Linked DNA regions of Homo sapiens: regions 2 and 3 are each linked to region 1. Evidence: fine-mapped expression QTL. A gene starts in region 1. Each other region holds a variant in brackets. All regions are shown on one strand. Distances are from middle to middle.

The links. PIP is the estimated chance that this variant, and not a neighbour inherited with it, causes the effect.
Region 2: its variant is the best candidate, but not a certain one, in a credible set for the expression of LINC00630 in whole blood (TOPMed, PIP 0.54).
Region 3: its variant is the best candidate, but not a certain one, in a credible set for the expression of LINC00630 in lung (GTEx, PIP 0.61).

What each region holds. Positions count from the first base shown.
Region 1 is chrX:102,764,422-102,775,062 of GRCh38, forward strand. LINC00630 (long intergenic non-protein coding RNA 630) reads left to right here and starts at 4,732. Exons shown (of 12, transcript NR_146589.1): 1 at 4,732-4,920. All of the region lies in intron 8 of ARMCX5-GPRASP2 (ARMCX5-GPRASP2 readthrough), which reads left to right.
Region 2 is chrX:102,625,067-102,635,707 of GRCh38, forward strand. All of the region lies in intron 4 of ARMCX5-GPRASP2 (ARMCX5-GPRASP2 readthrough), which reads left to right. Among named protein-coding and RNA genes, the nearest start is that of GPRASP1, 21 kb to the right of the region's middle. The variant A/G (reference allele first, on the strand shown) is at 4,844.
Region 3 is chrX:103,490,273-103,500,913 of GRCh38, forward strand. It overlaps RAB40A (RAB40A, member RAS oncogene family), which reads right to left. Exons shown (of 3, transcript NM_080879.3): 3 at 8,858-10,554. The coding sequence starts at 10,484. The coding sequence ends at 9,651. The region is part of intron 5 of LL0XNC01-250H12.3 (a long non-coding RNA gene); the gene reads left to right. Among named protein-coding and RNA genes, the nearest start is that of RAB40A, 24 kb to the right of the region's middle. The variant G/A (reference allele first, on the strand shown) is at 5,709.

The DNA of each region.
Region 1 (10,641 bases):
CAAATTTGATAGATTTCAGACTTTTCAAAAGGTATTGTAAATATGATAGTAGGCAAACACGTACACAACCAAGGTTATGAAGCAAAACATTACAGAGTGGACTCTCCTGTGTGAGTTCCCTGATTGCCTCAGCGCCCTCAGAAGGAACCACTATCCAAAATTTCTTGTTTAGTCATGAATACATCCCTAAACTAAACACATAATTGCTTTGCATATTTTTATCTCTATATAAGTAACATATTTATATATCTATTATCGAAATGTTTTCTTCTGAAAATAGTGTTTCTGAGATGTTTCTAACCAGGTGACTTTGGGACTATTTTGATATTTACCCATGCTCCTGTGAACAGGTTTGCTATGTACCGAGACTCTGCAATGCACATCTGAGAGGGCAGCAGATGACAGAGCCTCACATGCTTCTATTGTGGGTGCTGCTCAATATCTCCACAAAGAAGTTGTACCAATTTGTCCGCTCCAAGCTATGTATGGGCTTCTCGTGGCCCCAACATTTCAATTCAAACAGGATGCAACATAAACACAAATTCGATGATTGGGTTTTCTTTTCAAACTCTAGAATTATTCCAAGACATATTCTAAGGTATAATATGGAACCATTAGCTAAGCATTTTTAATGCACCTGTGAAATACACTATTTAAAACATAATACGATAGGGAAAAATAAAGAAAATCTAATGTACCAATAACAGGATCTCAGAATAAAAAATATTAAAAATCTGTGAAACCTATTTTTGCACAGATCAGGAAAAACAGATGTTTTCAAATTGTTGGATGGAATATAAGAACTATTAAAGAAATTTTAAAGTTCAACTATATAGGAAGCATTAAAAATATTAAATGGTCATGCTCTTTGACAAAACAGTTCCACTTCTGGGAATGTATCCTCCTGATATGGCCTCAAGAGTCTCCTGCTGTAACCACTCGTGTCCACACTGCTCAGGGCTGAGATGACCATTTCCTTAGTTGGCCCAGTGCCTTCATGTCCCAGATCCTGAGTCATCTACCCCTGGATCAAAACAGGAAAATCAAATCTGAATCATGGATGGATGCCCAGACTCGAAGGACCATCCACTAATTCACCACAAACATTGATACAGAGCAATGCTCAGGTCCCAACTCCTGGAGAGATTTGTAGACCTCAGGCCTCATCCCTGTCTGGGAGAAATCTTCCTTCCTCTCCCATCTTTGTGTCCTGAGAGGCCCCCACATCCCTACCAGGTACAAGCAGCCCGGTCCTTTCAACAAATTAAGTTTTCATAAAGGATGAAAGAAAAACTGGCTCCAGAAGGCTTCTGCTGTCAGCCCTCTCACAAACCTCCCCTGAAGTAAGGAGAGGGGGCACCAACCTTACTGCAGGGAGGGTAAGCAAGGAGAACAGAGATTAACCTCCTTAACAGTACATGTCCAGATACATTTGCTAAAGGTCTACCACTAGCAACTCAAGGTGCCCAGGCTGGCAGGTTCTATCCCTGGCTCTGGCAGTGGGCCTGGTGAGTAACCTCCTTGCCATTCAGCTCTGTGTTTAGGAGCACGTGCTTTATAGTCACTGACATCCATGAGGAAGAGAGGATACTGGTACCTCACCAGCACGGCTGTCATGAGATTAAATCCAGACACTAATGTGAAGAAACTGGAGCTGGGCCCAGCTAAACCATCTGCCTTACAAAATAGTAGCTGTCTTTTCCTCCTCCAAGCAGGGAACTCATGTTACTCTGAGCTGCCACCTCAGCCAGGGCCCCTTAAGAGGGCGCACATCGTAGTCACCTTGATGAGTCTTTTCTAAACCCTCAGCTGAAACTCCCTTGTTGGTGGAAAAATAGGACTTTGGCATCAAAGATCATTAATGTCTTAAGTTATAATATGAGCCTTGGAAAACAGATATATCCACTTGGCACCAACAGTATATGTGAGCGTCTGCTGGCTTTTCATTCCACCAACACCAAGTATTACCAACTTTTGTCCTTATTGCCAATCCAATCTGCTCATTTTCCCCAGACCTGTCCCATTGGAAGAATCAGCTCAGATGGTCATTAAACTTAGAGATTCACAGGGTCATCCCCTGCAATTGCCAGATTTAGCAAATAATAAGACGATTTAAAATTTTTATTTTGTTATTTATTTCATTTACTTTTATTTATTTAATTAAAATCCAGTTGGATTTTAATTTTAAATAAACTAATATTGCATGCCACATAAACTAAAAAATATTCCTATTAATCCGGAATTTAAAGTTAACTGAGTTGATTTTAATCTGGTAACTGTACACGTGGAGGGCTCTGTGGAGAGCCAAGATGCTCAGGTCAACAGCCTTAACTGAGCTCCCAGCAGACGCCAACACCAGTCATCATTCATGTGAGTGAGCTCTCTCAGATGTCCCAGATGAGTGGAACCTCCAGATGACTGCAGCCCCAGGTGACAGACATCATATAGAGCAGAAAACATCCAGCTGGGCCCAGTTAACACACAAAATACTGAGAGAAAATAAATGGCTATTAATTAAGGGTGCTTGTTAAGAAGGAACGGATATCTAAAACATTATGGTTTTGGTGAACTTTTCCTCATTTTCTGTGTTGTGTTATCATTGGGTAAGAAAGGAATTTTCTTATCCTTGAAGGCTTAGTGAAACTTGGTTATAATTGTATCATCTGAGTGTTGGCTTACATGTGGGTACAGATTTCTGAACATGTCATCAATTCCTTCTTGAAGGGATTCCCAAGGGCAATTTACATGATATCTATTTTTCATGCTAGTCTTAAAATTTGAAACCTAACTCCTTAAGAAGAATTCCCACTGCAATCATGTGAATTAAGATACTGAGAGGGCATTGCTACAAACCATTCTATGAGGAAACCTGAGAGGTTGTCTTAGTGAGTATTCATTCTGAACAATTTTAGAAGTGTTTCTCAAAGAAAGTGTCCTGAAACACTTTCTCCTGCTATAGTGATAACCCTTGGCAAGGAAGTAACTTTCCTTGGGCACACATAGACAGGGCTCCTTTAGGAGACAGCAGATAGATATACATTGCAGTCCTTGGTCTTTATGACTGTCCCAATGCAGCACTGCTGGGTGGATAAGTCAATTCTAGAACTTACTCATAGTAAGCCCACGTGACAGCAAATCTAAGTCACATTCTCCAATATCACCTTATAAGAGATAAAGTCAATATATGTTTCTCCTTATTCTTTTCCTATGTTTCTCAGTTGGTTTAGAGCTCAGACTAGAAGCAGAAGAGTATTTTGGGGGCCCCTTAAAGAATTAAGCATTGTGAATCAAGAACTATAGGAATAATTGTAGAGTCAGTGAGACACAGTTAGAGGAGTAAACCTGTGGGCCTATTTTAAGTCCCATCCCTGAAGGCAAAGCTGAACAAGTGCCTCCTGAAGGGCAGCTTACTACCAAGAAGTTGAAGGGAGAGGGCTTGGGCAGAGTATCATGTGTCTCCTTCCAGATTCTCCAATCGGATAAGTCATTCCTGCCGTAGAGAGGAGTGAGTGTGTAGAGGCTACATGTATTTTTGTCATGGATGTATTTTCCACATGGAAAAACATACCAGGAATGAAGGATAAGAATTTCCTTAAGGCAGGGCTGGGTGCGGTGGCTCACGCCTGTAATCCCAGCACTTTGGGAGGCCGAGGCGGGTGGATCACGAGGTCAGGAGATCGAGGCCAGCTTGACTAACATGGTGAAACCCTGTCTCTACTAAAAATATAAAAATTAGCTGGGTGTGGTGGTAAGCGCCTGTAATCCCAGCTACTCGGGAGGCTGAGGCAGGAGAATCGCTTGAACCTGGGAGGCAGAGGTTGCAGTGAGCTGAGATTGCGCCGTGCACTCCAACCTGGGCGATAGAGCGAGACTCCGTCTCAAAAAAAAAAAAAAAAAAAAAAATTTCCTTAAGGCAAACTACTGTGTGTTTTAATTGACTGGATTCCTGCCTACTAAATGATTATATTATTCTAGTCCGGCCTCCCTGAAATAACTGTATTATTACTCAAATGACAGTTTTTGTGTTTCTAGATCATTCAGTCACTTGATTATAAACAATCTGTTTTCTGCCACAGAAAACCAACTGCCTAGTATAGTGTGTGAGTTGTACATGTTCCTCCTCAGAGGGCTAGCTCATCTCCCAGAGTCCTAGGACACCTCTCTGGGCTTCTGTGTACTGATGATACTCCTCTAAGGTCACTTTTTTTTTTTTTTTTTTTTGAGAATCTCGGCTCACTGCAAGCTCCGCCTCCCGGGTTCACACCGTTCTACTGCCTCAGTCTCCTGAGTAGCTGGGACTACAGGCGCTCGCCACCACGCCCGGCTAATTTTTTGTATTTTTAGTAGAGATGGGGTTTCACCGTGTTAGTCAGGATGGTGTCGATCTTCTGACCTCGTGATCCTCCCGCCTCGCCCTCCCAAAGTACTGGGATTACAGGCATGAGCCACCGCGCCCGGCCCCCTTAGGTCACTTTTAAAGCAAAATTCCTGACAACATGGACTTCCTTTCCTCTACCATAATGAGTAGAGAGTCTTGAAAATTGCCCGGATCCCAGCCTCTAATTGGTATGTTTTCTCAGGGAGTTATCTGAAGAATGAAGGTGTTTTGCTTTAAGGGATAGGCTGGGGATGGAGGAGCGGGTTGTGCATAGTCATTTTCAGGTGTGGAAGACAAGCCAGTGCTACGCGGTTGCCATAGTAACCTGACGTCATATTAGCGACGGTGACGACTTTTTATTGAGACCAATTTGGCCTGGGGAGAACCGCCTTCAGGCGTTTGGACTCAGTGGAGGTTGTGAGTGCCCAGCAGTGTGGCCTGAATCTCCGTGGGGTTTAGGGAGACGAAAGGACCCCAGATCGACGTCCCCTCGTTCCCACTTTGGGGATCGGCGCTCTGGCTGTTTCGTGAAGGAGAGAGAGGTGGGTCTCTTCTGGCCCCAGTGAGTGTGGTGTCCTGCTCCAGGGTGTCCCGGGGCTACTTTCCCTGTAAAGGCGGGACGCGGGAGGATGAGACAGGTAAAGACCCTCTCTGAGCCCAGTTTCCCACTCTGTAAAATGGAAATAAAAATGCTCACCCACAGGATTGCTGAAACCTTCAGTGATAACATAGGTGCAAGACGATAGCCCTGTGGTTATTGCAGGATCAGGAATGCCTGTATGAAGTCAGGCCTCTTCTTGTTCTGTTTCAAACTTTCTTACAGTATAGACAAGGGAGAAACTTTATGTTTAACATGCATTTATGATAAGTTTATATATATATTTCTGACTGCATAAATAATAACCAGTGATTCCCATCAACACTATCAAATGAATGTTGAAATATAAAGTTAGTTAGAAGGCCTTCCTACCAATTTGAGATTATAATATGCATTCTCCCATATCTGTTGTATAATAAATTTGTTTATGAACTATAACTTATAAAGTGTCAATTAAAAAGTCATATGATGTTTTGATATATTTTATACATTGTAGAATGGCTGAATCAAGCTAATAAACCTATGCATTACCTAATGTACTTTTTTTTGTGGTGAACACTTAAAATCTACCCTTTTAGCAGTTTTCAAGTGTACAATATATTTTTATTAACCATGGTCACTATGATGTACAATAGATCCCTTGAATTTATCCCTCCTCTCTAACTGAAATTTTGTATCCATTGACCAACATCTCCCCAAACCCCTCCCCAGCCTCTGTCTGGTAATTACTGTTCTACTCTCTGCTTCTATGAGTTCAACTTATTTAGATTCCATATACAAGTGAGATTACGTGGTATTTGTCTTGCTGTGCCTGGCTTATTTCACTTAATGTCCTCCAGGTTCATCCATGTTGTCACAAATGACAGGATTTCCTTCTTTTTTCAAAAAGCTGAATAGTACGCCATTGTGTGCATGTATGACATTTTCTTTATTCATCTGTTGGTGGATACTTAGGTTGATTCCATACCCTGGCTATTGTGAATAATGCTGCAGTGAACATGGGAGTACATACATCTGTTTGAGGTACTAATTTCATTTCCTTTGGATATATACTCAGAAGGGGGACTGCTGGATCATTTGGTAATTCTATTTTTAGTTTTTTTCAGGAATGACCATACTGTTTCTGTAATATCTGTATAAATTTACATTCCCAGTATTGTACAAGGGTTCCATTTTTTTCCACATCCTTGTGAACACTTACCATCTTCTGTTTTTTTAAATAATGGCCATCCTAACAAGTGTGAGGTGATATCTTGTTATGGTTTTAATGTGCATTTCCCTGACAATTAGTGATATTGAGAATTTTTTCACATATCTGTTGGCCACTTGTATGTCTTACTTTGAAAAATGTATATTTTATTATATATGGACACATGATTATTGTACATATTTATGGGGGTACACTGTGATATTTCAATATATGTATACAATGTGTAGTGATAAAATCAGGGTAGTTAGCATATCCATCATCTCAAATCTTTATCATTTATATGTGCTGGTAACATTCAACATTTTCTCTTCTAGCTATTTGAAAAAATACATTAAATTATTGTTTGATAATTTAGTATAATGCTATAGAACACTAGAGATTATTCTTCCTATCCAGGGTCTGGAGTATGGGCTAGCCTTCAATGGATGTTAATCTAGTGTCTGGAGTACAGACATGTGCAAAGTGACCTTGGCTTAGGGGCCCGGATCCCAGCCTAGTTCCTCTAATTGGTATGTTTTCTCAGGGAGTTATCTGAAGAGTGAAGGTGTTTTGCTAGGTCTCTATGGCAGTGGCTCTGGTGTCTGAGGCATGGGCAGGCACAGTCAGGCACAGAGCTGGGGTCTGGAGTATGGGTATTTACAGAGTAGTTGTAGCTTGGGGGGGTCAGTGACACATGCAGCATTGGGACAGGTGGCACCTCTGGTCCCAGAGTGGTATAATAGCTGCTGCTTCTTGAGATGAGAAGTGTGTAGCCACTTCTCCCTCTCTGGGGTTCCTTGGGCAGGAATGGCTGTTGGTTATCTCAGTGGCGAAAGATGCCAGTGTCCTCTCCAGAGCAGACTGCTGGGGACCATGGTGATTCCTGCCACATGGCTAATAGCAATAGCCTTTGCCTTTCTTCTTTGCTCCTAGACATCTCCTGGCACCTCAAGTATACTGATCTCACCAGCAATATTTTCTGTGTGGATATTCCCCATTTTTTTTTCTACTGTGTTGCTGCAGATTCTTAAATGGGCCCCTGAGCCCTCCCATGAATACTTTAGTTTGTGGATAGCTGTCTACACTTGTTTTTTTGTGGCAGGGGGTGATGAAGGCTGATATCTCCTACTCTGCCCTCTTGGTCCTTCAGTATCTAGTTTGCCCTATTCTAATGATACCCTGCCATGTCCCCTAAAGGAACCGTATAGGCTTATATATCATTGTTATTATTTTCAAGGACATAACATTTTCAGTTCTGTTGTACCCAGCCTACCCATTCCTCCCACTGTCCTGTCTCCAGACAAATACAGCACTTTTGTCATTATAGATTAGATTTCATTTATTTAAAAATAATCATAGAGGTTTTTTTTTTATTTTTTTTTTTTAGGGATCTGGCTTCTTTCATTCACTCTATGTATTTTTAGATTTGTCCATTTTATTGCCTATTTCAATAGTTTTTTTTTTTTTATTACAGAGTAGCATTACAGTATAGGATATACTACAATTCGTTTTGTCCATTCACTTGCTAATGGATATTTGGGTTGTATTCAATTTAGGGGATCTTGTGTATGAGTCTTTACAGAGAAATGTGCTTTCTTTCTCTAGGGTAAATACTTAGGATTGCAGTGGCTGGAACATGTTATAGATGTAAGACTAACATTGTAAGAAACTGCCAAACTGTTTTCAAAGTGGTTGTACCATTTTTCATTGTCTCAGCAGAGCTTCATCCTCCACAACCTCGTCAGTGCTTGGTATGGTCAGTCTCTAACTTTAGTGATTCTCATGCGGCGATAAAACAAGACGACCCAATGGAGCTTAATTAGGCCACACACAAAAAACATTAACTATTTAAAGGAATAATATTTAATCTACTGGGCTAAAAATTTCAGTTGGGGTAACTTCAGAGCACCGTACAACCTCTGAATGATTAAAACCCGGACTAGACTAGTTATTCATAAAAGTGTGTTATAATTTATTGACCCAAGCAATTTGATCAATAGAACAAGTTACCCTAGGGATAACAGCATGATCATATCTTAGAGTTCATATCAACCATAGGGATTTACAATCCTGATGTGGGATCAGAACATCTCAATAGTATAACAGCTATTTTTTTTTTTTTTTTTTTTGAGACGAAGTCTCGCCCCGTCGCCCAGGCTGGAGTGCAGTGGTGCAATCTCGGCTCACTGCAACCTCTGCCTCCCAGGTTCAAGCGATTCTCTTGCCTCGGCCTCCCGAGTAGCTGGGACTACAGGCGCCCGCCACCTCGCCTGGCTGATTTTTTGAATTTTTAGTAGAGACGGGGTTTCACCGTGTTAGTCAGGATGGTCTGGATCTCCTGACCTTGTGATCCGCCCGCCTCAGCCTCCCAAAGTGCTGGGATTACAGACGTGAGCCACCGCGCCTGGCCAGCAGCTATTAATTGTTTATGTTTTCAGTGACCAAAGTCCTACATGATTTAAGTTCAGGATCTGGGTTGGTTTCCACCTATTTAATATTTCTCCCAATACAAAAAGAGAAGAGAATTATGGCACACAAAAAGCACCCTCAATTCAAAAGATGATATAATCTAGATCTAATTTATTATTATACACTTTGCCCCAAAACAGGGCTTGTTAAGATGGTAGAGCCTGGTAATTGCATAAAACTTGAAATTTTATAATCAGAGGTTCAATTACTCTTCTTTTTAAAATAATTGTTTATTTTATTTTTATTTTTTGTGGGTATACAGTAGGTGTATGTATTTATGGGGTACATGGGACGTTTTGATACAGGCATGTAATGCATATCAATCACATCGTGGAAAATGGGTATCTCCTCAAGAATTTATCCTTTCTGTTACAAAAAAATCCAATTATACTCTTTTAGTTGTTTTAAAATATACAATTAAGTTATTATTGACTATAGTCACCCTGTTGTGCTATCAAATACTAGGTCCGTTTCATTCTATTTTTTGTACTGGTTAACCATCCCCCATCTCTCCCCAACCCTCCCCAATTCCTTTCCCAGCCTCTGGTAACCATCCTTCTACTCTCTATCTCCACAGGTTAAATTGTTTTGATTTTTAGACCCCACAAATAAATAAGAACATGCAAGGTTTCTCCTTCTATGTCTGGCTTACTTCACTTAACATAATGATCGCCAGTTCCATCCATGTTTTTGCAAATGACTGGATCTCATTATTTTTTATGGCTGAGTAGTACTCCATCGTGTATAAGTACCACATTTTCTTTATCCATTCATCTGTTGATGGACACAGGCTTCTTCCAACTCTTGTCTATTGTGAACAGAGTGGCAACAAACATGGGAGTGCAGATGTCTCTTCAATATACTGATTTCCTTTCTTTTGGGTATATATCCAGAGTAGGATTGCTGGATCACATGGGTAGCTCTATTTTCAGTTTTCTGAGGAACCTCCAAACTGTTCTCTACAATGGTTGTAGTAATTTACGTTCCCACCAACAGTGTACGAGGGTTCTTTTTTCTCCACATCTTCACCTGCAATTGTTATTGCCCGTCTTTTGGACATAAGCCATTTTAACTGAGAAGGGATGATATCTCATTGTAGTTTTGATTTGCATTTCTCTGATGATTCATTACGTTGAGCACCTATATATGCCTGTTTGTCATTTGTATGTCTTCCTTTGAGAAATGTCTATTCAGATATATATATATATTTTTTTTTTTTTTTTTTTTTTTAGACGGAGTCTTGCTCTGTCAGCAGGCTGGAGTGCAGTGGCGCAATCTCGGCTCACTGCAACCTCCACCTCCTGGGTTCAAGCGATTCTCCTGCCTCAGCCTCCCGAGTAGCTGGGACTACAGGCGCATGCCACCATGCCCAGCTAATTTTTGTATTTTTAGTAGAGATGGGGTTTCACCATTTTGGCCAGGATGGTCTCGATCTCTTGACCTCGTGATCCACCCACCTTGGCCTCCCAAGGTACTGGGATTACAGGCATGAGCCACCGTGCCCGGCCTGCCCATTTTAAATTCAGATTATTATATTTTTTCCTATAGAACTATTTGAGATACTTATACATCTGGTTATTAATTCCTTGTCAGATGGGTAGTTTGCAAACATTTTTACCCATTCTGTGGTTGTTTCTTAACTTTGTTGATTGTTTCCTCTGCTGTGCAGAAGCCTTTTAACTTGATGTGATGCTATTTGTCCATTTTTGCTCTGGTTGCCTGTGCTTGTGGGGTATTACTCAAGAAATTTTTGCCCAGACTGATGTTCTGGAGAGTTTTCCCAAAGTTTTCTTGTAGTAGTTTTATAGTTTGAGGTCTTAGATTTAATTCTTTAATCCATTTTGATTTGATTTTTGTACATGATGAGAGATAGGGGTCTAGTTTCATTCTTCTGCATATAGGTATCCAGTTTTCCCAGGACCATTTATTGAAGGTACTGTCTTTACAGTATATGTTCTTGGCACCTTTATCAAAAATGATTTCACTGTAGGCGTATGCATTTCTTTC
Region 2 (10,641 bases), 140 kb before region 1:
AGGAACCTCTTCCAAAGAAAACTCAGAGCCACTACCAGTGGGGTATGCTCAGCAGTGAGTAGGGCAGCTGTTCTGGAGTTGTGAGCCTGGGGCCCTGCCTGGTGAAGAGAGGGGGATGAAGACGCCTAAGGAAGAGGAACTGGACTCCCTTCCATATGGTGGCTGCAGTGTGCTGGAAGTGCCAATACAACAACTAGGCCCTTTGTTCCTTCCCCGGCCTAAGGGTAGTTAGGGCAGTACCACTGCAGCTGCAGTGGTGGAAGGGTTTTGAATTGACTCTGGGATTTCCTACTTGGAGAAATGCTGAGCCACCTCTAATTGAAGTGCTCAGGTGGGTGCAGGGTAGTTCTGCTGGAGTCCCAGGTTGGGAGGCCTTGCCCAGTGAGAAGTGGGGACAGATACCTGCATGGGGAACAATGTGGCCACTTTTCCATGGAGTAGCTGCACTGTGCTGAGGGTCTGCACCAGTGCCTAGTTACCATGGACTCGTGAGAGCTTGAAGGTAGCAAAGGCAAGGACTGCAAGAGAGCAAAGATGTTGGCTTGCTCCTTCTTTGAGCTCTGTCCCAGAGATCTGCAGAGCTGCCACCAGCATGAGAACCCCAGCGAGGGGGTGGCTGGAGTCCCAGGTTGGGAGGTCCTGCCCAGTGGGAAGAAACGGGATTGGAGACCCACATAGAAAACAGTCTGGCTGCTTTTTTTAGGGTGGCCACACTGTGCTGGGAGTCTGTGCCACACGGTAGTTGCCTGGGACTCTCCAGAACCTGAAGACTGCAAGATTACAAAGATGGCAGCCCACCTGTCTGGGAGGTGAGGAGTTGTTACAGGCCTAAGAGCCCTAGTAGGGGGTAACTAAAGTCCAGACCAGTGTGTCTCAGCCTGTGAGGCTTGCAGACCTTCATTGTTCAGCGCCCTGGATTCAGCACCTTTCTTGGGGTTGTATAAGTGAGGCTTACCTCCCCGCAACCTTTTTTTTTGAGACAGAGTCTAGCTCTGTCCCCCAGGCTGGAGTGTGCAGTGGCACAATCTCGGCTCACTGCAAGCTCCACCTCCTGAGTTCACGCCATTCTCCTGCCTCAGCCTCCTGAGTAGCTGGGACTACAGGTGCCCACCACCATGCCCATCTAATTTTTTGTATTTTTAGTAGAGACAGGGTTTCACCGTGTTAGCCAGGATGGTCTTGATCTCCTGACCTCGTGATCCGCCCACCTTGGCCTCCCAAAGTGCTGGGATTACAGGCGTGAGCCACCGCACCCGGCCTACCTCCCCTTTTACCAGAGCTGCAGCTGCTAATGCCAGGATGCCTGGGGATCCAGGGCTCCTTGGGACTCTGCATATATGTGAGTGTGGCTCTGTCCAGTCTCCACATAGCTCTGTGTATCAGTCCGAAGGCCCTGGTGGAGTGGGCTCACAGGGGGATCTCCTGATCCTAGAGTTCCAAAGATCCTAAGTGTGGATTCCTGAAGTTTCTCACTCACTCACCATTTCCCATGGAGAGGGAACCTCCCAGATGGACAGAGATCCTGTCTTACTCCTCTCTGTTCTTCGTGGGTCGAGTTGTTTCCTTGATGAATTCCAATATGTTCACCTGCATGTTTCAGTTGAAGATGTAGTGTTTAATTGCTACTGTTTCTTCTCTTTGTGAGTGTGGCATACTCTAGCTACTTCTAGTCAGCCATCTTGTCCTTCCCCCTCATTCTTCATAGGGTTTTCAAACCTCTCTGTTTATATTACTCATTTTTTCTTAAATGTTGTCCATTTTTTTCCCACTAGAGCCCTTATCATACTAGTCTGATAGTTCCAAAAATATCTGCCATATCTGAGTCAGGTTCTGATGCTTACTTTGACTCTTGAGACTGTATTTTGCAATTTAACATGGCTTCCAATTTTTTGTTCAAAGCTAGACATGATATATTAGGCAACAGAACTCAGTAAAATAGGCCTTAAGTGTGAGGCTTTATGTTTATCTGTCTAAGAATCAGGCTATATTCAATATTTGTTGTAGCTATAGATGTCAAACTCTAAAATTTCTTCTGCTATCCCTGCTTTTTCCTATTCTGTTGTCTTTGGGTTCCCCGGAGATTACTTTTTATATAAGGTCTGATACTTAACAGTTGTTCCAGCTGTAATTCCCTGTTATTAGACATTAGCCTGATTGATGTAGTGGTAAGCAGTGGGTACAAGGGGTATATATTCTATTGTCTTATGATTAGGTCTTAGTCTTTTAGTGACCTAGTACCCCTGTGCTATGACCTTCACAAGTTTTTCTCAGTTTTTTCTTCCCACTAGGTGATACGGGAATCCTAGATGGGGCTGAATTGGTTATTTTCCTTACCCTGTATCAGGCTAATGGGTACTAGATCTGGGTATTTCCCTTCTTTACAGTCGGATAGGCATTGATAAAACCCAATTCAGTTGGGTTCTGGTAAAATAGTTTCCCTTTAGGGAAGCAGGGATTTTTAAGGAGAACAGAATACTCTGGGCATATTTCAAATGGTTACTCCCCCCTCCACACCCCTGCCCCCACCGCCAACCCCTGTCTTCCTACTAGAAACATGAGGGGATTTTATTTATTTTTATTTTTATTTTTATTATTTTTTTTACCAGTCTTTATATTGAGAACCTGTCAGGGCTCCTGGAGGCAAAACTCACAAAGATTTGGGAGCCTCTCTGAGAGGAACCTCCAGATATTTTAACTGTAAAGCTAGTCCACATTGAGCCTTCCACTACTGGGTCTAGCAGTGGGCGTCTGCTCCTGAGATTCTGATGTCAGTAAGCTGTGGTTTTCAGTAACCACATTTTTTCTCAATTTTGGGGGCAGTGGCTTGTCCTGTGACCTCAATTCTCTGATGGATCTAAGAAGAGCTGTTAATTTTCAGTTTGTTCAGCTTTTTTCTTATACTAACAATGAGAGTAATGACTTCCAATCACTTTACATTTCAGACTGGAAATCAGAAGTCTCTGTTGTATTGATTTTTTGAGTTCTCATTTATGTGACTGAACATTTCTTGTTAGAAGTAATCTTACTTATAAGTTCCTTAACCATAGTGCCATGTAGGAGCCATAATGTCATCCTTAGAAAAAACAAGTTTGAGAACAGCTTTCTTTCTTTGTATTCCTTATCAATGAAAGGTATAACAGAAGCACTGCCCAATATAATTTTAGCTCTTATATTTATGCCTTTCATATATTCGGAGTTAATTTTTATATATGGCATGAGGTAGGAGTCCAAGTTCATTCTTTGACATGTAGCTTTCTAGTTGTTCCAGCCATATTTTTTGAAGATATTCTTTCACATTTTATGGTCTTGGCACCATTGTTGAACTTCAGTTGTCTATAGATGTGTTTATTTCTGGCCATTCAATTCCATTCCATTAATCTACATATCTGTCCTTATGTCTGTACCTCCCTGTTTTGATTATTGTAGCTTTGTAGTATGTTTTAAAATTGGGAATTGTGAGTTCTCCAACTTTTTTTTTTTCAAGATTGTTTTGGCTATTTGAAGCCCCTTGCAATTCTATATGAATTTTAATATCTGCTTTTCCATTTCTGCAAAAAGGGGCTTTGTAATTTTGATAGTGATGACACTTGTCCTTGAAGCTTTAAGCAAGAACTATATAGCCTCTGTTCAGTTTGATTGTGAGGCTTTTTTAAATTTAGCAGGTTACATTGTGAATGATGTAATTTCATAGGCAAAGTCCATTTTTGCCATGTAAGGTAACATATTCGCAGATTCCAGGGATTAGAAAATTGACATGTTGTGGGGGCTGATACATTATTTAGTCTACTGTACTACTTACAGTAAAGGCAGTGGTCATAGAATCAAGCAAGTTATATATGGGTAAATAAATGTGGTAAAATAGGCTATCCATATTTTGCAGAAGCTGAAATTCCAGTGATAAACACAAGGTAGAGACTTTTAAAATTTTACTACTTTCATAGACTCTGTGTATCAGCGGTTTGCAACCACCATATGTGTTAGTTGGAAATAATTCATCATTATTAATCCTTGTGGGGAGAAATTCTGTTAATTAGATGTTTGGGAAATGCTATTATAGTTTGCTGTACAAAGAATACTAGCAGTTATCTCTTACAAAACATTGATAATAATATATTTATTTTCCCATACCTACTTAAAAATTACAAATAGCATTTTCCTAGAATAAAGGGTCTAGGAAGGACACAGGAAAAGAGGGGGCTATTGCTACTTTTCAAAAGACTCAGTAGACATTAGGGAACATATTTAAGCAGTCAGTATATTTGTAGAAAGCTTGTTGAGTTTTTTTTCTATCCATTTTGTTTCTGTATGCCAGTTTTATCACAAAATAATACTTATGAGTTCACCTTTCCTTTCTGAGCAATAAACAAGCTTAAGGTATCTAAGCCTTGAAAATTGGCCTTGGTACTATTCTCTAAATTTGAAGTAATGTCTTTGTTCTTCAACAAGGTCTTACCAGCTATTGTCTTATAGCCTTAGGATTTGGGGCACACAGCAGCAAGTTTAGGGCTGAGTGAGTACGGACTGACTTTGTGATATGCTCAGTATCAATATACCCAGCAATTTCCCAAGTAATTCCCTAAAGAACAGTTCTAGTATACCTTCCTACTCCTAAAAATCAGACTGCTTTTCCTATTTTCCTGTTGTTGTAACAAATTACCATAAATTTGATTGCTTAAAACAACATATATTTATTATGTTACTATTCTAGATGCCAGAAGTTCAAATTTAGTCTTGCTGGGTTTAAGTGAAGGTGTTAGCAGGGCTGGCTCCTTCTGGAGGCTGTGAGAGGAGAATCCGTTTTCTTGCCTTTTTTTCAGCTTCTGCCTGTGTTCCTTGGCTTATA[A/G]TCTCTTTCTCACATCATTTCAGCCTTTAATTTTATTGTCCCACCTCTTTCTGTCTTTGACCTTCTTGCCTCCCTCTTTTAATGACTCTGCTTATGTTGGGACTAACTGCATAATCAAGGATAGCCTTCCCATCTCAAGATCCTTAACTTAATTATATGAGCAGAGTCCCTTTTTGCCATGTAAGGTAACATATTGACAGTTTCCAGGGATTAGAAAATGGAATATTGTGGAGAGGGATACATTACTTAGTCTATTATACAACTTACAGTGAAGGCAGTGGTCACAGAATCAAGCAAGTTATAGATAGGTAAATAAATGTGGTAAAATAGGCTATTCATTGAGTTTTGGGCATTATGTAGATATCTTTAACATTCTTACTTCCAGTTATTGGCATTTTACCATCTATGAATTCACATGGGTATATCATAATAAGGGGAAAATTGATGAGTGTCAAACACTCCAGATTTCCTTACCAAAAGGGAGTTGTGAAATTTCACAGTTCTGTAAATTTTACCTCACAAGTGAATTAAAAAACAACTTGGTAACCTGTCTTGTGGTAGAGTTCCTATAAATATGATAGGAGTTCATTTGAATACTCTCTTTACCATGTTAATCTTCTGTTATGGGCTGAATCCTGTCCACCCCAAAATTCTCATGTTTAAGCACTAATCTCAAGTACTTCCAAATGTGACTATGTTTGGAGACAGGGCCTTTGAAGGGGCAATTAAGTTAATTAGGGTGGGTCCTAATTCAATCTGATTGGTGTCCTTATAAGAACTGGAAATTTGGACACACAGAAATACTGGAGGTGCACATGCACAGAGGAAACACCATGTGACGACACAGCAAGATGGTGGTCATTTGTAAACCAGGGAAGGGAGGCCTCAGGACAAATTAAACCTGCCAAAATCTTGATCTTGGATTTCCAGTCTCTAAAATTATGGGAAAAAAAATTTATGTTGTTTAAGTCACCCAGCCCGTGGTATTTTGTTGTGGCAGCACTAACAAACTAAAACATCCTCAAACATTTATGTATTTGTTTGGCATTTTACATCAGATTGGAAAAAAAGGAAGCCTTGTGTTTATGGTAAAAGTATAGAGTTTCATAGAAGTTTAGACTTTCAAACTTGATAAATCCTATCAAAGCTAGAGCACTTTTCCAGTATTATGTTCAATTCCAGTGTAGCAGTGTGTACATTAGCTTACTACCTGCTTTAGATGGCAAAATAGAAAATTAAATATAGAGAGTACCCAGAAATAAACTCACACATTTATACTTCATTGATTTTTGACAAAGGTTCCAAGAATACACAATGAGGGAAGAACAATCTCTTTAATAAATAGTGTTGGAAAAACTGGATATCCACATGTAGAAGAATGAAATTAGACCCTTATCTTACAACATATATAAAAATCAACTCAAAATGAATTGAGGACTTAAACATTAGACCTGAAACTGTAAAACTACTAGAACAAAAAATAAGAGGAAAACTCCATGACATAGGTCTGGGCATTTATTTTTTGGTTACGAACCCAAAAGCACAGGGAACAAAAGCAAAAATAAACAAGTGGGATTACTTCAAACTAAAAAGCTTCCGCACAGCTAAGGAAACAACAGAGTGAAGAGACAATCTACAGAACAGGAGAGAATATTTGAAAACCATATATTTGTTAAGGGGTTAATATCAAAAATACATAAGGAGCTCAACTCAATAGCAAGAAAACAATAACCTTATTTTTAAAATGGCAAAGGACCTCAATAGACATTTCTCAAAAGAAGACATACAACTGGCCAACAGATATGTCAAAAAATGTTCTACATCACTAATCATCGGGGAAATGCAAGTTAAAACCACAGTGCAGTATCACTCAAACCTGTTAGAATGGCTATTATTGAAAAGATGATAGATAACAAGTGTCGATGAGGATGTGGAGAAAAAAGCACTCTTGTACACTCTAGAAATATAAACTAGTACAGCCATTATGGAAAACTGTATGGAGATTCCTAAAAAAAACTAAGTATAGAACTATCATGTGATCCAGCAATTCCACTTCTTGGTATATGTACAAAACAACTGAAATCAGTATGTAATATATACAAATATATATATATGTATATATATATATGTATATATATATATATAATACTGATTTCAGTTGTTGATATATATATATATATATAACATACTGATTTCAGTTGTTGATATATATATATATATATATCAGGCACAGAAAGACAAATACTCCATGATCTCGCTTATATATAGAATCTGAAAAAGTCAAACTCATAGCAGTAGAAAGTAGAATGGTGGTTACCAGAGGATGGGAGCGAGAACAGGAATGGGGATGTGTTGGTCAAAGGGTACAAAGTTTCACATTGACAGGAGGAGTAAGTTTTTGACATTTATTGCACAGTATTGCAATTATAGTTAATAATTATGAATTGCATATTTCAAAATTGTTAAGAGAGTACATTTCGAATCTTCTCACCAAAAAATGGTATGTGAGGTGATGGCTATGTTAATTAGCCAAATTTATTCCATCATGCATACATATTTCAAAACAATGTATTGTATATGATAAGTGTATACAATTTTGTGAATTACCAAAATAAAAACAAACAAAACCAAAATTAAATTTGAAATGTACATTCAAAGTAAACCTAGAATGAACTGAACTTACTACAAACAAAAATCTCCACCTCTCTCTTTCTCCCCCCATTCCTATTTTAATTGAATTACAGTCAGTAATTTAGGGAAGAGTGGGCAGGTAGCTCTAAAAAAGCAATTTGAATTAAAACTTTTAAAAACCTACTGGGTGAGACACTTGCCAGCCAAAAATATTGTCTCTAACAAAATAATTTGTCTAAATATTTTATGGGGGTGCTTCTTTGTCTGATTGGTCAGTGATAGATGCTTATAGAAGCATAATGTCTCTTCCCAGATTTTAAATATAGTGTAAACTGATATGATTTATATAATCAACAGAAAACCATATGTTCAAGGGGTCTTTATATTTTCAACAAATTGAACAATCTGTTTTGTCCCAAACACTGTTTCTAGGTTCTAGGAATACAGCATAGAATAAAACAAAACATCATCCTCATGGAGCTTACATTTAGGGATGAGGGAAACAGATAATAAGAAATTAAATATATAAATATGTAATATTAAGTGGTTGTGAATGATACCGAGAAAAATAAAACAGGGTATGAGGGTGTTGGAAGGAGGGATACTATTTTAGATAGGATAGTCAGAGAAGTTCATTCTGAGCAAATACCTGAATGAAGTGATGGAGCAAGTCATGAGGTTATCTAACAGATAAATATTCTAGGCTTTGGGAACAACAAATACAGTGGTCCTTAGGTAGGAATGTGTTTGGCTTGCTCAAAAAACAGCAAGAAGGCTAGTGTGGCTGAAATGGAGGAAGCAAGGGGAGAATGGTGAGAGATGATTTTAAAATGGTAGCCAGGGGCCAGATCATGTAAGATATTACAGGCCATGGAAAGAAGTTTGGATTCTAAGTCTTACAGAAAGCCACTAGAAGGTTTTGGCAAGGGGAGCTGGAGAGCTGTGAGATATTATATATATATATACACACACATATATATATATATGTGTGTATATATATATGTGTATATATATATGTGTATATATATATGTGTGTGTATATATATGTGTATATATATATGTGTGTGTGTATATATGTGTGTGTGTATATATATATATATATATATATATGCTGTCTCCATATATATATATGGAGAGAGAGAGAGATAGACAGTCTTGCTCTGTCACCCAGGCTGGAGCACAGTGGCATGGTCACGGCTAAGTGCATGCAACCTCTGCCTCCCAGGTTCAGGCAATTCTTGTGCCTCAGCCTCCCAAGTAACTGGGACTACAGGCATGCACCACCACACACAGCTAATGTTTGTATTTTTAATACAGACGGGGTCTCACCGTGTCTCCCAGGTTGGTCTCAAACTCCTGGCCTCAAGTGATCCACCTGCCTCAGCTTCCCAAAGTGCTAGGATTACAGGTGTGAGCCACCATGCCTGGCCATGACTTATATTTTTAAATAGTAATCCTGGCTACTGTGTAGAGAATGGACTCTAGAGAAACAAGAATTGAGGCAAGAAGGATAACTAGTACCTATAAAACAATTGCAGTGGTCCAGGTAACAGATGATATTGATTTGGAATAAGATCTCAGCTGTGGAAGTGGTGGTAAGTGTCCAGCTTTGAAATATATTTAGTGGGTAGATTCAATGGATGTTGTAGATGAATCAAATATAGAGTAAGAGAAAAAGAGGAATTGATTCTGATGCTGAGCAGCTCAGTGAATACAGATATCACTTATTGCATTTCAGATGCCTTTTAGACATCCATGTCAAGATGGAAAGTAAGCAGTTGGAGATATAAGTTTGGGACTTTGGAGATAGGTCCAGACTAGAGGTAGAAATTTGAGAAACATGAAGGTATAGGTGGTATTTAAAGCCAAGAGGTTGGATGAGATGACTAAGAGATGTAGATAGTGTGAGTAGTAAGAGAGGAAGTCCAAAGATTGAGCTTTGGCAAGGATGCCCTCTCTCACCACTCCAATTCAACATAGTATTAGAAGTCCTATCCAGGGCAATGAGGCAAGAGACAGACATAAAGGGCATCCAAAATAGGAAGAGAGAAAGTCAAACTATCTCTTTTTGCAGACGACATGATTCTATATCTAGAAAACCCCATAGTCTTGGCCCCAAATTTCCTTTAGCTAATAAACAACTTCAGCAAAGTTTCAGGATACAAAATCAATGTATAAAAATCACTAGCATTCCTATACACCAACAACAGCCAAACTGAGAGCCAAATCAGGAAGGCAGTCTCATTTAGAATTGCCACAAAAAGAACAAAATACGTAAGAATACAGCTAACCAGAGAAGTGAAAGATCTCTACAATGAGAACACTGCTCAAAGAAATCAGAGATGACACAAACAAATGGAAAAACATTCCATGCTCATGGATAGGAAGAATCAATATCATTAAAATGGCTATTCTGCCCAAGGCAATTTACAGATTCAGCGTTATTCCTATGAAACTACCAATGGCATGTTTTGCAGAACTAGAAAAAAACTATTTTAAAATTCATATGGAACCAAAAAACAGTCCGAATAGCAATGGCAATCCTAAGCAAGATGAATAAAGCTGGAGGCATCACACTACCTGACTTCAAGCTATACGGGCTACAGTAACCAAAACAGCATGGTACTGGTACAAGAACAGACACATAGACCAATGGAACAAAGTAGGGAGCCCAGAAGTAAGGCTGTACACCTACGACCATCTGATTTTTGACAAACCTGACAAAAACAAGCAATGGGGAAAAGACTCCCTAGTCAATAAATGGTGCTGGGATAACTGGCTAGCCACATGCAGAAAATTGAAGCTGGACCCTTACTTACATCATATACAAAAAATCAACTCAAGATGGATTGAAGACTTAAATGTAAAACCCAAAACTATAAAAACTCTGGAAGACAACCTAGGTAATACCATTCTGGACATAGGAACAGGCAAAGATTTCATGATGAAGATGTCAAAAGCAATTGCAGCAAAAGCAAAAATTGACAAGTGGGATTTAATTAAGAGCTTCCGCACAGAGAAAGAAACTGTCAACAGAGTAAACAGACAAACTACAGAATGGGAGAAAATATTTGCAAAGTCTTCATCTGACAAAGGTCTAGTATCTAGTATCTATAAGGAACTTAAATTTACAAGAGGAAAACAACCCTATTCAAAAGGGGGCAAAA
Region 3 (10,641 bases), 730 kb after region 1:
CAATCACAGCTCACTGCAACCTCTGCCTCCCAGGCTTGAGCGATCCTCCAGCCACAGCCTCCCAAGTAGCTGGGACTACAGGTGTGAGCCACCACCCCTAACGAATTTTTTTTTTTTTTTTTTGAGACGGAGTCTCACTGTCTCCCAGGCTGGAGTGCAGTGGCGCCATCTCGGTTCACTGCAAGCTCGGTCCCCCGGGTTCACGCCATTCTCCTGCCTCAGCCTCCGGAGTAGCTGGGACTACAGGCGCCTACCACCACGCCCGGCTAATTTTTTGTGTGTGTATTTTTAGTAGAGACAGGGTTTCACCGTGTTCGCCAGGATGGTCTCAATCTCCTGACCTCGTGATCTGCCCGCCTCGGCCTCCCAAAGTGCTGGAATTACAGGCGTGAGCCACCGCGCCCGGCCACCCCTGACTAATTTTTATATTTTTTGTAGAGACAGGATTTCACCATGTTACCCAAACTGGTCTCGAAATCCTGAGCTCAAGGGATCCGCTCACCTCCGTCTTCCAAAGTGCTGGGATTACAGATGTCAGCCACTGCACCCGGCCATACTACTTAGGACTTTTGTAACCTGTGTTTGCCTTTACTATGACCATCTTTCAAATTCAATTTCAATTTTTTGTATAGAGTTGGTGTTTCATCATATGATGCCCTAAACTTTATTTTCCCAGTACTCTAGTGGTGAAAATTTAATTCCTTTTAATATAGTTTCTATTACAGACAATAGTATACTTAACACCAGCTTTTATATATGCAGATATCTTTTAAAGCATTTCTTTATAAGCTCCTGAAGAGTCCTTTCAAAACCCTGGAAATTAGAACATTTTATATTAACATAATGGTTCAAAATACTACTACTAATTTACATTCCTAATGTAACCACAGAACCGTTCAATATGCTTTGACTTTGTAACAAAGTGATGAGTTGTTTTTTAGATGCAGTGGATCCCCAGGTTGCAAGTCATATAACCTGAGCATGCCCAGATGAACCAAGTATGCCTGATTGGTGAACCTGGAACTGGCCAGAACAGAAAATGTCAACCACATGTGGAATCTAAGTATTCAGATTGAGAAATGAGGACCAAAATGAGAAGTGAGTGGTTCCCTGTTTTTTTCCCAGTACAAACTTAAAAGCCAAGGACTTGGCACCACTTCTTTGCATGATCCAATCAGATCATGCCTGGTTGCATTTCCCTATGTCCCCCATAGTTACTCTCTGCCTTCAGACCCCAGCTCGAGGAAACAGATTTGAGTGTTGCTGGTCCTGTCTCCTTGCTGGTCGACCTTGCAATAAAGCTTTTTCTTTCCTCAAAAGCTAGTGCCATAGTATTGGCTTCTATGTGCATTGGTGACCAAGCCCATTGCTCAGTAACACTAACATCACAGTATGAAAGTGCCTGTTTCTACACACATTGAAATAATGGGCATGGTAGCTAATCTGATAGGCAAAAAATTCTCTCTCATCATTGTCTTCATTGTAACTCATTTTATTGCTTACCTACAATTTCATGCTGTGGATGTAACATAATTTTCAGAACTCCATGTTATTCAGAGTGTTCTGATACTCCCTAATGTCAACACTGTGTCGATGGCATCTTTTCAAAGTATGTGCTCCGCTGAAGGGCACAGTTCCGGGCACAGTTCCTGTGGCTGTTTGGACTGGTGAGCCAAATGTGTCCTCTTGGAACTCACCAAACTGTCATAGAAGAATACTAGTATTGTGATAAAAAGAGCCTGGTCCATGTATAAATGTGTGTGTGTGTGTGTGTGTGATTGTGTATGTGCTGGCGTGATTGTGTGTGTGATGACAACCACATTTTCCTCTGCTTCCTTCTTTTCCTTCATGGCTTTGCATCTCATTTGGTCTCCCTTCCTAAATTCAGGCTGAGAACAAAAGTTCTCTGAAAAGGAATTTAGAGGAAAGAGACTTTATTCCAGTGAATAGTTTGCAAATCGGGGAGATGTAGCCTTCAGTATAAAATGAAGGTGTGTTCCAGAGGACAAAGGGAAGGTTTGTCTTTTATGAAGAAAATTCTCACCCAGGTTCCCACTCAGGTCAACTTATGCAAATGAAGGATTCCAACTTGCTTAGTTCTGATTGGTTGACATAGGTGAAAGCTTATTGGTTGGTTCAAGCACCATAAAAAGGAACAGGCAGCTATGAAAGTCCCAAAGTTAAGCAGACTTTCAGGTTTTCTGGGAACTCGAAGTCATGTGTGACCTCTACTCAGCAAATGGCCACTTGGCTCTAATTTGAATTTAGGCCCAGTTAAACACCCAGGATTTATCTTGAAGGACTGGTTCTTTCAGGCTTCACAAGGCCCAGAAGTAAAGGAAGGGAATTATCAGAATAGCAGTTCTTTTTACCATATCCTTATCCACATCCTTCCTTACATTCTGAAGATAAACTTGTTCAAGGGAAATTGTTTGTGCAAACAGTGTGTCCATATGTAGGTTTTTGATAAATATTGCCACACTGACACTCATCAAGGTAGTGCTATTTAGACTCCCTAAGTGAAGTCATGCAAGAAAACACACAGGGGAGTGAAGAAAGTAATAGTAATGACATCCTGTTAGACAGTAAATGCCCTATACTTTGTTGTAGACCTACTCTCAAGCCATTGCCACAGTTGGAACATGTGGAAGTGATCAGATGAAAATCAAACTTTACACCCGAGTAAAACCCGAAGTAACATGTGGGATAGTGTTAGGAGGGGAAAATCCTTGGAGGAACATATGACAAAGAGTCAGCAGGGCTGGGATACAGCTACCGTTTTACATGCATTCACATTTATATAAAAGATGTACATCACAGCCTTTGTATGAAAAAGTTTGGTCACTACTGTGGTACAACAGAAGACCAGGGCAATATCATATTTTTAAACGGCTTTCTTGTAGTATAATTTATGGACAATAAAATGCATGCTTTTGAAGATAGAATTTTGTGATTTTTAGTAAATGTATAGAGTTGTGCAATGATCTTCATAATTGAGGGTTTTAAAATCTTTTATTTTTAATTTTTGTGGGTACATAATAGGCATATATATTTTTGGGGATACATGAGATTTTGGTACAGGTAGGGAATGTGTAATAATCACATCATTAAAAATTAGGTATCCATCCCCTCAAGCATTTATCCTTTGTGTTACAAACAATTCAATTATACTCTTTTAGTTATTTTGAAATGCACACTTAAATTATTATTGACTATTGTCCCCCTGTTGTGCTACCAAGTACTAGGTCTTATTCATTCTTTCTAATTTTTTTATACTCATTAACCATATGCACCTCCCCTCCAGCCTGCCACCATCCTTCCCAGCCTCTAGTAACCATCCTTCTAGTCTCTACCTCCATGAGTTCAATTGCGTTCATTTTTATCTCCCACAAATAAGTGAGAACATGCAATGTTTGTCTTTCTGTGCCTGGCTTATTTTACTTAACATAATGACTTCCAGTTCCATCCATGTTTTTGCAAATGACTGAATCACATTCTTCTTGATGGCTGACTAGTACTCCGTTGTGTATGTGTACCACATTTTCTTTATCCATTCATCTCTTGATGGACACTTAAGTTGCTTCCAAATGTTAGCTATAGTGAACAGTGCTGCAACAAACATGGGAGTGCAGATGTCTCTTTAATATACTGATTTCCTTTCTTTTGGGTATATACCCAGCAGTGGGATTGCGGGTCATATGGAAGTTCAATTTTTAGTTTTTTTGAGGAACCTTCAAAATGTTCTACATAGTGGTTTTACTAACTTACATTCCTACCAACAGTGTACAAGGTTTCCCTTTTCTCCACATCCTTGCCAGCATTTGTTATTGCCTGTCTTTTGGATATAAGCCATTTTAACTGGGGTGAGATGATATCTTGTTGTAGTTTGGATTGGCATTTCTCTGATGATCAATGAAGTTGAGCACCTTTTCATATGCCTGTCTGCCATTTGTATGTCTTCTTTAGAGAAATGTCTATTCAAATCTTTTGCCCACCTTTTAATCAGTTTAGTTATTTTTGCTATAGAGTTGTTTGAGCTCATTATATATTCTGGTTATTAATCCCTTGTCAAATGGGTAGTCTGCAAATATTTTCTCCCATTCTGTGGGTTGTCTCTTCACTTTGTTGATTGTTTCCTTTGCTGTGCAAAAGCTTTTTAACTTGATGTGATTCCATTTGTCCGTTTTTGCTTTGGTTGCCTGTGTTGGGGTATTACTCTAGAAATCTTTGCCCAGACCAATGTCCTGGAGAGTTTCCCCAAAGTCTTGTAGTTTCATAGTTTGAAGTCTTAGATTTAAGCCTTTAACTGATATTGATTTAATTTTTGTATATGGCAAGAAATAGAGGGTCTATTTTCATTCTTCTGCGTATGGATTTCCAGATTTCCCAGCACCACTTATTGAAGAGACTGTCTTTTCCTCAGTATAGGTTCTTTGTTGAAAATGGGTTCACTGTAGGTGTGTGGATTTGTTTCTGGGTTCTTTATTCTGTTCCACTGGTCTATGTGTCTGTTTTTATGCCAGTACCATGCTGTTTTGGTGATATAGCTCTGTAGTATAATTTGAAGTGAGGTATTGTGATTCCTCCAGTTTTGTTCTTTTTGCTCAAGATAGCTTTGGGAATTCTGGGTCTTTTGTGATTCTATATGAATTTTAGGATTGTTCTGTTTCTGTGGAGAATGTCATTGGTATTTTGATAGGGATTGTATTAAATCTGTAGATTGCTTTGAGTAGAATGGACATTTTAACAATATTGATTCTTCCAATCAATGAACATGAAATACTTTTCCATTTTTTGGCGTCATCTTCAATTTCTGTCATCAGTGTTTTATAGCTTTCATTATAGAGGCCTTTCACTTCTTTGGTTAATTCCTGTGTATTTAATTTTATTTATGGCTATTGTAAATGGGATTACTTTTAAATTTATTTTTTAGATTGTTCACTCTTGGCTGGCATATAGAAACACTACTGATTTTTGTATGTTGATTTTGTATCTTGCAACTATACTGAATTTGTTTATGAGTTCTAATCGTTTTTTGATGGAGTCTAGGTTTTTCCAAATATAAGATCATGTCATCTGCAAACAAGGATAATTTGACTTCTTCTTTTCCAGTTTGGATGCCCTTTATTTCTTTCTCTTGTCTGATTGCTGTAGCTGGGACTTCATCGTTGAGTTTTAGACATTTTCATCACCCTAAGATTACCCATCCTGCTTGAATGCAGTTAATCCCTGTGCCCACCCCCAGCCCTAGGCAATCACAGATATGCTTTGTTTCTCTGTGGATTTGCTTGTTTTTGACATTTTATATAAGTGAAATCAAACAATATTTGGTCTTTTGCATCTGGCTTCTTTCACTTTACATAATGTTTTCAAAATCTGTGTTGCAGCATATATCAGTTCCTCATCCATATTTATTGCTGAATATACCACATTTTATCCATGTATCAATTGATGAGCATTTGGGTTGTTTCCACTCTTTGGCTATTTTGAATGATGATCCTGTATACATTCAGGTACAAGTTTTTATGTAGGCATATTTCTTTTGGCTATGTACCTAGGGGTGGAATTGCTGTGTCATATGGTAACTCCCTGTTAACCATTTGAGGTATGGCCAGACTATTTTCATAAGCTTGATTTCATGAGAAGTACAGGCATAACTTGTTTTTCTCATTATTAGACTGAGGTTATGGGTTTTCAGAAGGAATACC[G/A]CAGAGATGAATTGCCCTTTTTATCACACCATATATGGGTTTACATGCTACCCATATGATATCAATGGTGATGTTAACCTTCATCACTTGGTTAAGGTACTGTTTGCCAAATTTCTCCAGTGTGTGGTAACTATTTTACATTCCTATACTCTTTTCTGTAGAAGTAAGTCACTAAGTCAGCCCTGTTCTTAGGAGGTAGAGGACAGAATTAAACTTCACCTCATGAACTGAGGGTTAGCCACATATATTGTTTAGAATTATTTGATTGAGACAATTTGTCTTCTCTGACCCATTTCTTTGTCAATGGAAACACTTAATTTATATCAGTATGGAATCATGTACACTTATCATATAGTTGTGATAGTTTACCAAATGGAAACATTCCAAAAGGAATTCCAGAATTATGATTTGTGTGGTGCAGTAGAAGAATTCTGACCTAATCAGGAGACTGCAAGAGTTCCCTCTATCTACTATTATATTTCACCACCATTATATTACCAAATTATGGCATATTAAACAATCAGACAATGCTTTTAGGCAATATATTTAACCACGACAAATTTTGAAACAACATTTTAATTTCAGGCGATTACATTGCATACTTAGTAATTCCTTCAGAAAGAAATAAAACAATAAACAGAATTTATTGAAGTGATCATAAAAATATTGCTAACATGCAGTAAATCTATTTGCAAAATTCCTTTTATTGAAGCAATAGTATGGGATATGTTGGGGAAATGTTGTACTTCAACTGATAGCACAGTTCCTGTAGCACAGCCTTCACGTTATCTGACTGACTCTTATGGAAGCTATTTTACAATGCTAGCTTTTAGGTAAATATAGCATTGCAATATAATCTTTGTCTATACAAAAGCAACTGAATTTTGTCATTGCGGGGGAAGCTTTGTCTCCATATAGATGTTCATTTTAACACTCTTGATCTATAAATGGGACAAAGGGGTGGCTGTTGGTTTTGATGGGGTTCATTTCAACAGAGGGGTGCGGGAACAAAGCACCATTAGATGAGGAATGAGGACTGAGGTGGAGGGAGGTGCAAAGGGATGTGAGTTGAGTATTGAGAATTCTTCATAGAACTTTGGTTGCAATGGGAGAATATATGTAAAGAGAACAGTAACTAGGGTTGTAGAGAGAGGTCTAGGGTTTTAAATTATGTTTTAAAATTATCAATGATAAGAGGCTCTCTCAGGGTGGAAATATTAAGGAGAAGGAGCCATCTCTTCTTAGGTCTAGAAACTGAGTTTACCACAACCCCCTTACTTCCTTGTTTCTATTCTGGGGAAGTCTAAAACTTAACCAGAGGGATGGTGTCATTTGACTTTAATGCCTGTTAACTATGGGGATGGATAGATGGATGGATGGATGGATGGATGGATGGACAGATGGATGGATGGATGCACGATGTGTCAAACAGGTGCTGGTATTTTATCTTCCAGCACTGAGCTCCTCACACAGGTGACTGAACCCGTGGTTTTGGTGTCTGAGAAGATGCAGCTTCTCCAGTCTCTGCAACTGACGGCAGGAAGATGGGAGCACTCAGCTTCAGTGTTCAGAAGCAGATTTAGGCCAATTGCCATACCTTACGTTCTGGAGGGATCCACCCTGACCTGAGCAGGTGAGGTCACAGAAAGGCTTGCTGTCCATCACAGGGACAGGATTACAGCCTGCTCAGAAGCATGTTGTGGTCCAGCTCTTGTGTCACTTAAAAAGACTCCAGCTCTTCTCTAATATTGAATTCAACTAATATCACAGAGAGATGTTCTTAATCTTCTAGACAAACACACTGCCATCAGTATTCCCCAGAGGCCACAAACACACCCTGGAACCATAATGCCACCAGTAGCTCTAGGAGAACTTGCAGGCTAATGTGCCTGTTGCTCATTGTTTTTAGGCTACATATGAAAATGGACCAGTTTGCAATAAAAATATAATGCAATGATGATTATCAGAGCATTTTGTATACTAGGGAATTTTTTAAGTTATCTGAACATCAAATTAAATATAATGACAATGAAAGAATTTCCACCTGTCATATCATCAAAGTATAAAAAGAAACCATTCAGGATTCCAGTAAGGTGGGCATGCGGGGAAGCCTACCCTGTTTCATATTGGTGGTGGGGATGTCATTTAGTACAACCTCTTTCAAGGTTGATTTGGTAATTTCTATTAAAGACTCTATGCATCCCCGATCTGCATGTGTTTGGGGCCTGCTCCTTCAAGTATTCACCCTCAGCATGGCCCCTGTCCCTCTGAGAGTGCATATTCTTCCTGATACAGGAACTGTCTGCGGACTCGTTTCTAAAGCAATGGCCCAGACACACTCCCTTGTCTACAGAGTAGGAAATTTAGGTCTGACAAGGTTCTCTGTCTTTCATAAGAGAGACAGAACTGGCAGCCTGGCTTCAGAGCTGAAGATACAGATTTCAGTAGTGACCCAGGTCAGCAGGAAAGCAAGATTTGCTTGGTTATGTTGTGATGTGCAGCTCAGCATCACAGTCTGCCTGGGGGCATATAGGATGCTAGTCTCTGCTTTTCCACTTAGTGGCAGGATGCTCCCCAGCCAGGTTGCTTAACCTGCAAACATCCCTGTTTCTTAAGCTACAGGATGGTGTAGAGATTATATCCTCTACCTCCCAGGAATGTTGTGGGAAATTCATGAGATAGAAAAGTACCAGCGTTCAGGAAGGGTGAGTCCCCACAGCTCCGTGAGGCCAGAGATACTGCCCTTCTGCGGGACTTTGTTACAATCACCCTATGACAATGCACAAATAAATGGTCATTCAATTACAAAAGAGTACAAGGACTTATATTTACTCAGTTCATCCAATATCAATTATTATAATAATCAACAGTGTAAATTGGAAAGTAACTACGTGGAAACCACTTCTCCTTCTTTCCCATCTAAGGTCTCAGAAGTGCTTTCCCAGATGTGATCTCATTAACCTCTATATTGATCTGAGAGGTGTTAACCAAAACTGGCCAGCACAGGGGAAATGACTCACCTAAGGCCTTATAATGGGCCTGCCCCGCCATGTTCTATTGCATTGTTTTTCTGCAAAGCCTCATCTTGCGGGGTTACACTATACATATTTTTCCTCTCTTTTCGTTTTACCAAAGAGAAAAATATATACTTTTTTACTGTTAAGAAACATTTTCTCAAATAAGTACGTATTTCATTCCTTACTGAAATGGTTTTTTCTTATTGATCCATTGAAACCATATTGGCTATGTTCAACATAACTAGAGATATCTTTGGTGTTTTCCTCCCTTAGCTTCATATCTTGTAGAACATCTCGTACAAAAAAAGTAGATTTACAGAAAAACATACATATAAATCACGTATTAATCCCCAAATGTAGTAAATAACATAGCAAAAACTTTATCAAATCCATTTCATGCACAAGCTGGACAGATCTGTTATATACAATCTCTATATGCATCTGCAGTGTTTTATAAATTGGTGCTTTGACATTAAAAAGGAGGTTTACAAAAAGGCCCCTCTTGTACTATCGATGACTGAATTATCTCACTATCATTGCTTCTCAAATTTCCTTGAATTTATACTCATCATTGCCATATCACCATTCTAACAAAGGCGGTTATTTTAAGGAAAAAGTTGCAGCGTGATTATGATATAAGTAACATTCAAAATTTCACGTTATCAAGAGTTGAGCAAAGTACTAATTTCCCCTTTATAAACACACGTTTAAAACAAGAGCTTCATGCACATCCAAATAGAAATTCAAAGTCAAACTGTGTAATGTGTTTTTATTGACAGAAGGCATCACACACATTCCCAAGCAGCATGGTTCCCGTGAGAAACTGAAAACTAATTTCTTGAATCTACAATGCGACTTCCATCTTCCAGGTGTAACCAGAGTTTTTCCTGGAGCGATTCCAGCTTGTTTCCTTTTGGTGCCTTCCTTAAGAAATTTTGCAGCTGTTTCTGGTGCAGTTTTTGGGTGGGCTCTGGGGTGGGCAGACGATCTCCACTTTGCAGAGGCTGCTCTTGTGAGTGGAGCTGGTGGTGAGGGAGTAGGAGAGGCCTCGCATCATCCTGGCATTCAGGCCCTTAGCCATGGAGAAGGACTTGAGGTGGCTTCTTAAGGTACTGGGGAGCGGGAGCTTGTCCACCAGATGCACAGGTGTGCAGGACACGATGGTGCGGCAGCAGAGGTCTTGCAAGCTCAGTACCTTGCTCGGCCTCCCGAGCCAATTCATCCTGTGCCGCAGCAGCACTATCCTGGCCAGCTCCGTGAAAGACTCTATGATGTTGAAATTGCACAGAGGGCTGACCTCAAAGAAGGTCACACCCAGGCGCTCGGCGTAGGCCTGGGCCTGCTCCCTGGGCACCTGCCTCTTGAATGCCAGATGTAGGCGATTCCCCACCAGGATTTTAGGGACACCAGGGGCATGTTCCTCAATCTTCTTAATCCATCGATCCATACCCTCGAAAGACCAGCGGTTTGCAATGTCGTAGACCAGGATCACTCCTTGTGCACCACGAGAGTAGGAGCGGAATATGGTACAAAATCTTCCCTGCCCCGACGTATCCCAGAGCTTCAGCTTCACCCGCTGGCCGTCCAGCAGGATGGTGGTCGTCTTGTAGTCGATCCCCCCGAGATGGCTGTACGGGGACTCAGCTGCACCATCCTGCAGGCTCTCCAGGATCTCACTCTTGCCTACGTCCCTGTCGCCCACCAGCAGGAACTTGAGCAGGAAGTCATAGGCCTGGTCGGGGCTGCCCGGGGCGCTCATGGTGCTGGCCCCGCACTCCCGCCTGAGCCAGGCCCGCGGGGTTGTGCGCAGAGGTGGTGCCGGGCCTGTTCTTCTTGAGAAATTAGCATAGAACATAAAAAATGAGATGGGGAAGTCTGTGAAATAAAGCGAAATGAGGTGGTGGCTTTGATGGATT